2 linked regions of the Homo sapiens genome follow. The protein of the gene in region 1 purifies or fractionates together with the protein of each later gene. This does not show direct contact. Each region holds a gene or a part of one and is shown in the gene's direction. Other genes may lie near its edges. The genes, in order: MAMDC2 and CDAN1.

What was found.
Region 2: the proteins of MAMDC2 (region 1) and CDAN1 purify together in Homo sapiens (affinity purification with mass spectrometry; 2 studies listed by BioGRID and IntAct, with this or other methods). This does not show direct contact.

The regions. Positions count from the first base shown.
Region 1 is NC_000009.12:70,041,582-70,045,485, forward strand, and holds the start of MAMDC2 (MAM domain-containing protein 2 isoform 1 precursor), read left to right. Parts: upstream 1-2,266; 5' UTR 2,267-2,616; coding exon 2,617-2,650; intron 2,651-3,002; coding exon 3,003-3,116; intron 3,117-3,904.
Region 2 is NC_000015.10:42,730,338-42,734,241, reverse strand, and holds part of CDAN1 (codanin-1), read left to right. Parts: coding exon 1-16; intron 17-194; coding exon 195-304; intron 305-1,055; coding exon 1,056-1,145; intron 1,146-1,833; coding exon 1,834-1,909; intron 1,910-2,416; coding exon 2,417-2,622; intron 2,623-2,910; coding exon 2,911-3,031; intron 3,032-3,170; coding exon 3,171-3,317; intron 3,318-3,477; coding exon 3,478-3,644; intron 3,645-3,904. UniProt on the Homo sapiens protein: May act as a negative regulator of ASF1 in chromatin assembly.

The DNA.
Region 1 (3,904 bases):
ATTTTTGACCATTTGAATCATTGTTTACAGAAAACACATGAAAATTTGTTCCTACCTTTAAAAAAGGATTCCAGATATATTTTCCTTATTAGGGAGAAGGTTACTAATTTTCTAATACTGAAAGTGACATCTGAGTGAAGACCTCATTAGGCGGTGAGTTGTGTGGCTCTTTGTGGAAGAGCATTTTGAGCAGAAAGAACAGCCAGTGCAAAATTCTGAAAGGATAGCTGGACTGTGTTTGAGGATCAGCCAAGAGGTCTGTGTGGCTAGAGAAGAGTAAGCAGGGTGATTGAAGTCAGAGAAATAAGAGGGTGGGGCTGGGTGCAGTGGCTCACGCCTGTAATCGCAGCACTTCGGGAGTCCGAGGCAGGTGGATCATGATGTCAAGAGATTGAAACCATCCTGGCCAACATGGTGAAACCCTGTCTCTACTAAAAATACAAAAATTAGCTGGGCGTGGTGTCACACGCCTGTAATCCCAGCTACTTGGGAGGCTGAGGCAGGAGAATTGCTTGAACCTGGGAGGTGGACTTTGCAGTGAACAGAGATCGCACTCCAGCCTGGTGACAGGGTGGGATTCTGTCTCAAAAAAAGAAAAAGAAGGAAAGCAAGAAAAGAAAGAAAAGGGTGGAGCAGGTCCTATAGGGCCTGGTTGGTCATCGTGAAGACTTTGGACTTTACTAAATGACTTGGGAACTTGTTGGGTCTTGAGCTAAGGAGTGACATGGCCCAATTTCTGTATTAAAAGGATAACCCTGACTAGTGTGTTCAGAATAGAGTAGGGTGGGCAGGGCAGAAAATGAAGGGAGACCGTGGTCAGGAGGCCACTGCGGTATCCCAGGTTGATGGCAAGGGCAGCTTGGACCAACCAAGGCATCACCACCATGGGCACAGAGCATGGTCAGCATCTGCTGTGTTTTGAATCCTGAGCTGATAGAAATTGGCAATGTCTGACAGGAACGGATGAGCTGAAGATGCCTCCAAGTTTTCTCTCCTGAACAACTGGAGGAAAATAGTTCTTTTACTGAGATGAGGAAGACACAGGGGACGGGCAGGTTTGGCAAGAAATATGCAGCCTTCATGTTGGGACCTGTTAAGTATGAAATAGCTCTGAAGCATCCGATTGGAAATGTTGAGGTGGCAATGAGATCGAAGAGTCTGGCGTTAGTGAGTAGTCTGGGTTAGAAATATAAATGTGGGAGTTATCAGGCTATCATTGGTATCTAAAACTATGAGACTTGAGGACAGCATTGAGGGGCTGGATAGAGAAAGAAACAGGAGTGACAGGGAAGAACTTGGAGGCACTCTCATGTTAAGGGGTTACAGAGGTAACGCAAAGAGGCCGAGAAGCGGCGGCCAATGAAAGACCAGGAAACCCAGCGGTCTGGAAGCCAGGTGAAGGCATGGGAGCAGGTTGAACTGATGGCTCAACTGGAGTTTGTTAGGCCAGTGGTCCTCAAAGTATTGTTCCAAACCCGCTGCGGCAGCAGCAGCCTCTGGAAACTTATTAGGGACGTGCAGCCTCTCAGGCCCACTCCAGAGCTACTGGATCGGAAACGGAGGGTGAGGCCCTTCAGCAGATTCTGATGCACCCTCAGGTTTTAAAACCACTGCCCTCCTCACAAAATTGCCTGCACAAAATTATAAATGGGAGAAAGGAGGAGGAGGAGGAGGAAGAGGAGGGGAGGAAGAAGAACTCTTTACAAGAAAAGAATATTGTTGGAGACCCACTTAGTGCCCAAAGCAAACAGCTTCCTCAGAAGTAACTCCCTCCCCAACAACCCCCTCCCAGTGTAAAGCCTCCCATTAATCAATCTATCATGGCTCTTTGGAGAGAAGGAATGCCCCCATTTCACCGGACGGAGGGAATGCTGAGCACCAGGCATGCCAGACATTCCACCGGCTAAAAAAAGTGGGGGTGGTATTCCAGGGTTAGCATTGCTGGACCGTAAACGCTGAAACTCCTTAGATATAAAGCTTATTCCACCCAACCGTTTCCAAATTTTCCTCCAGGCTGTCCTTGGAGAATTCCACCCTCTTTCATTCTGGGGAGAAGAAGTTAAAATTAGGGCCAGCCCTGCGGGACTGACATGCCAGATGCAGGGAAGCTGTCCCCAGAAATAAGCGAGTTCCCACCGCGGCTGGGCGGGGCGGGAGCCTCGGGTCCCAACCCAGCGGAGGGACTCCTGGAAGGCCTGCCCCTTCCAAGTGTCTGCAAGGGCTCTGGTCCCAAGCTTTAAAATCCTGAGCGAAGGCACTGCGGGCCGACCTCTCCTCTCCCAGCCAGTCGTGGCTGGCCTTTCAAAGTGTGCAGTTGTCTCCTCCCTGTCCAGCCCCATCGTCGCCCAGGACCAGCTGGGCCGCGGTCTGACCTGAGGCTGCTGCTCAGCGCCGGGGCGCTGGCGCTCTCCATTCGAGCACCTTCCAGCATACCGCTCGGCTCCGGGAGCCGCTCTGCAAAGTTGGGCAGCTCAGAGCGCAAGCTTTGCCTCTCGACTTCTCCCTCCTTGGGTCCCCGGCGCCCCCGCCTCCCACGATCCCTTTCACTAGGAGCAGCCAGTCCCAGCGGGCTGGCAACTTGCACCCCTTCCTAGTCATCCTCCCTGAAACGCGACCATGCTGTTAAGGGGCGTCCTCCTGGCGTTGCAAGGTAAGGCCTGGACCCCGGGACAACCCCGGGGGCGCTCTGACGACTCGCCCCCGCTCCTGCTGCCCCCGGGGGTCCGGCTCACCGTGCTGGGCTGGGCCATCCGAGGGCGCCTCCTGATCCTCCGCAGCCGCTAACTCCCTCCCCTGGCCAAGCCTGGGGTGGGGGTGGGGGTGGGCGTGGGGTCGCTCAGTGGAGGCGCCCGGGGATGCTGGGGGACAGGTACTGCATCCCTCTCCCGCCCCCTCCCGCTCGTCTTTCCCCCACTTTCACCAGGTAGTCCCCCTGGGGCTCCCCGAGTTGGTGCAAAGGCTCCTGGGTGGAGCTCGAACTGAAACTCGCTTTGTGCCCGCAGCCCTGCAGCTCGCCGGTGCCCTCGACCTGCCCGCTGGGTCCTGTGCCTTTGAAGAGAGCACTTGCGGCTTTGACTCCGTGTTGGCCTCTCTGCCGTGGATTTTAAATGAGGAAGGTAAGGAGGCTCGGTGGAGAGGGGCGCGAAGTGAACTTTCTTCCTTGATGGCTTGCTTTTTTTTCCCACATGGGTAATGTTATCTTGGAGTTAATTCTCCGCGGCAAGAAAAGTGTGAGTCATGGATCCTCCTTCAAGCCCTCAGCTGTGCTGCAAGGGATGGCCGAGGCAGGAACGGGGCGGGCGGGAGGCCGCCCTTTGTTTACCTGGCCTATGGGTAGAAGCTTAAAATTTGCGTCTCACCCCAGCACTCCTTAATGGAAGGGAGAAACGGAGCACAGCTAATGATTGTTCTCCGCTGTGGGCCTCTGCAGGCACACCAGCTGTGTGCCTCTGCAGGCCAGCAACCTTTCTGGTCCTCAGGAGACATGTCTGTGAGTTGGGAAAAGTTGCATGGGACTAGTTCTCCTTCAGCTTTGCAGAAATGGTTCCACAATTCTGTGATGGGACGTCAGTGCTAAGACATCACGTCTGCCTTGACCCTGACAGTGTTTTTTGCTGCATGATTTCATCCTCACACTCCTGTTTGTAATCCTGCCCTGGACAAAAGAAACCATGTACACTGCCAAATGCCTGGGGTCCCTGTCTCACTGGTGGTCATTGTCTTACTACTCTATACTGTTTGGGTCCCAAGGACAAAGTTTAAATGTGGGGTCTTCTGAAGTGTCATCTTGCCTTTATATAGTTTTTTTTGTTTTTTGTTTTAAAGTGTGGTTCTCAGTACCCAATGGCAGGCGGCACTGGGTGTCCCTTCTTTCCTTTCTCTCTCTTTTGTCACCACCAGTGAA
Region 2 (3,904 bases), on another chromosome or scaffold:
GGGCAGTGTTGCCAAGGTAGTAACCCCAGCTTAGTTGCCCACTAGCCTGGACCTAACCCTTCCTAGCTTTCATAAATTCAGGCAACCCTGCTGACGACACTTCAGTGTAATGTGAGCTAACTCTGGGCAAGAATAAGAGGGAGAAGTTTTCTCAGCATGACCCTGCAGTTCCTAACGTTCCTGCTGTATTTTAGGTCTCTCTGGTGATGCCTCCCTCTACTCAAGCTGTCTCCTTTCAGCCAGAGACTGACAATCGTGCCAACTTCTCCAGTGACCGAGCCTTTCATACTTTTAAGAAACAGAGGTGATAAGAAAAGGGACTTTTTGGGGAGGGAATGAGATGACATTTTTCTGGAATAGGCAGCTGTTTGGTTTCATAGAAATTAGGAGTTTGGCACCAACAGGTGGTGGGTTAGTCCCCCCAGGTCCTTCCTGCCGGCCATCATAGGGACCACCTGGCTTCATTCTCATGTGCATCTGTGAACCCCGGCGCTTAGCAAGCCATCTCACAGGTGTATGGTTTTAGTCTCAGGGTTCTCAAGCAAGAGTGTGCCAGGATGAACTGTCACTGCCCACAGAAGTACATGAAGCCTGTAATGTGCTGCTGGTCTGTAGCACTACTGTCATCATATAGAGAACTCTGGAGAAATTTAAAAATGGGGCTGCTGGCCGGGTGTGGTGGCTCACGCCTGTAATCCTAGCACTTCAGGAGGCCGAGGGGCGGATCACCTGAGGTCAGGAGTTTGAGACCAGCCGGGCCAACATGGTGAAACTCCGTCTCTACTAAAAATACAAAAATTAGCCAGGCGTGGTGGTGGGCACTTGTAATCCCAGCTACTCTGGAGGCTGAGGCAGGAGAATCGCTTGAACCCAGGCGGGGCGGAGGTTGCAGTGAGCTGAGATCGCGTCATTGCAATCCAGCCTGAGTGACAAGAGCAAGACTCCATCTCCAAAAAAAAAAAAGGTGGTGGGTGGGCTACGGATAGTTCTTCCAGGGGCAGGAAGGCACTGGTGGGAGTGAGTGCCTCGGCTGATCAGGCGTTCTTATGCGTCAGGGATGTGTTTTATGAGGTGCTGCGAGAGTGGGAAGATCACCATGAGGAGCCTGGCTGGGATTTTGAGAAGGGCTTGGGCAGCAGAATCAGGTGGGTGCTCAGACCTTGTCTTTCTTGTTCCTGGCAATGAGTAGCTCAGTGCTTGCTCGGTGGCAGGAGGGAGGAGGAGGGAAGGTTTTCCCCGCTCCTACCAGCCATTAGCTGTTTTCTACTATCCTCCGAAATCTCTTTAGTTATTGATAACTCTGCCTCTATTCGAAAGGGATGTGTCTCTCCAGCTCCTTCCACTCACAGGTGTCTTATCCTTGTTCTGTAGTGGCAATTGCTTAGAAAGTCCAAAGCTCTTAACTCAGGTTGCTTGAGGTTTTTTTGGCCCAAGTCACTGCTTAGACACATCCAGCCTCCATCTTCTCCATCCTCTAATTTGGGCAAGTCTGGTCACTGTGCAGGTAGATGCCTGGGCTCAGAACGCGAACCTCAGTCCAGTCATCTCCCTTCACATTGCTCATGAAACCCGCCGCCTGTTAGTGTGGCTGAAGACGGTCGGGGGGTGTGGTCGCATGATTTCTTGTTTGGTTAAGTGCACCTCTAGCCTCGGAGGACCTTGGTGCTGAGGGAGTGTCCCTTGCCTTCAGTGTCCCTTTGCAGGCTGGCTCTGGCTGAGGTCTGCTCAAGTCCCTGGTAAACGGCTGGGAAGTCCAGGGGTTGGCTGCTTCTCTCAGATCTTTCTCCCTCTCCCTCCTTTCCACACCCTTCATTCCTGCCTTCTATTCCTCAGGGCCATGATGGGTCAGCTCTCCGCAGCCTGCAGCCACAGCCACTTTGTTCGGCTTTTCCAAAAACAACTACTCCAGGTAACAGCCCCAGCAAGAGATTAATCCACATTAAACAGCAGGCATCACAGGCAGCCACTTAACGGCTGCACTTTGGGATAGGGCAGACAGCCTGGCAGGTCCTGGGCTGGAATTTGAACAAGAGTTCTACTCCTCGCGGAGTGGCTGAAACTCCAGTGGCCACAGAAAAGCCAGGGCACTCTCTTTGACACATCCCGGGCCCTGCAGCTCCTCTAGCCTGCTGCTGCCTTCCCTGATTTGTGCTGTGGTAAAGAGCCCAGGCTTAGTAAGTAGTCAAGCTTTGTTTCAGATCCTAGCTCTAGTGACCCTAGGCACATGCTTAACCTTGGAATTTAAGTTTCTTCACCTGTGAAACAATACTGTAATTCACATCTCAGAAAATCTATCTAAAGCACTTGACACAGTTGGCATTCCTTAAATGTTCATTACTTTCTCCTTATTTTTTGTTCAGTCCTTCCCTCCCACTTGCTGATTTTTTTAATTTCTCTCCTTCCTCTTCCACCCTAGATGTGTCAGAGCCCTGGTGGTGCTGGGGGCACCGTCTTGGGCGAGGCCCCAGATGTGTTGAGTATGCTGGGAGCTGACAAGCTGGGGCGGTTGTGGCGCCTACAGGAACGGCTTATGGCTCCTCAGAGCAGTGGGGGGCCCTGCCCACCCCCCACCTTCCCAGGCTGTCAAGGCTTCTTTAGGGACTTCATCCTTAGTGCCAGCAGGTAGGCTCCCCTGTGTCTTGCAAGGAATGGGGCAGAGGCCAGGAAAGGTTTGGCTTCCCAAAAGGGTAAATAGTTCTCCAGTCTCCTTTGCCTGGAGATAGGCTCCTTCCAGCTCCAACTTGCTGGCTTCATTGCACTTCTCATTCTGTCACCCACGTGGGTGATTTCATTGCTCCTGGGCCTCCCTGTCTGTCCTGCTGCTCCCTTCCCTCTGGAGTGCCCCTTCTCGATTCTGGCTTTTCCTGTACCTCTTCCAGTGCTTATGCCCCACCCACCCCTTCTTCTCAGCTTCCAGTTTAACCAGCATCTCATGGACAGTCTGAGCTTGAAGATCCAGGAGCTCAATGGTCTTGCCCTGCCCCAGCATGAGCCCAATGATGAAGACGGGGAGTCAGACGTAGACTGGCAGGTCCGAAAACAGAACAAGGGAAATAATGGGGTCTGACCCAGGAGGGAAGGGAGTATGTTCAAGAAAAACTTTATAACAGATCGGGAATTGTTCTGGAAGCCTCATGCTTGGACCTTTTACTTCCCTTGATTCCATGCAGGGTGAGCGGAAGCAATTTGCTGTGGTGCTTCTTAGCCTGAGACTTTTGGCTAAATTCCTGGGCTTTGTGGCTTTCCTGCCATACCGGGGGCCTGAACCTCCCCCGACCGGTGAGCTTCAGGACTCCATTCTGGCCCTCAGGAGCCAGGTGAATGGGCGGGGGATTCTGGTGAGGAGGGAGCAGGGAGGACCGGCCAGGCACTGAAGCTGACTGGTTTCCTTGGCTATTCTGGAAACCAGGCAGGTTAAAGGGCATCTCCCAGCCCTTCCTAGGGACCTGCCCCCTGACTGAGCTCTGGCCCTCCCAGGTCCCTCCGGTCCTGGATGTGCGGACTCTGCTGCAGCGAGGGCTGCAGGCCCGCCGGGCGGTGCTCACCGTGCCCTGGCTGGTGGAGTTTCTCTCCTTTGCTGACCATGTTGTTCCCTTGCTGGAATATTACCGGGACATCTTCACTCTCCTGCTGCGCCTGCACCGGTGAGTGGAACAAGGCTGAGGCTTGATGAAAGGATTCGGGACTCGGGACATTGGTCAAGCCTGCTATTAATAAAGAGGGTCGAGCAGTCTGCACTGTGCGTGTGGGGCCCTGGCCATAACTGAGCCCTGGGAGAGGCACGATTGGCTCCCCTGAGGTACAGTGGGAAATCATCTGCACTTTCATTGGCCTCATGCTGTTCCTGAGGTGGCCCCGCTGAGAGACAGTCCCCATGCAGGAGGCGGGGCTGGGGGGATCCTGC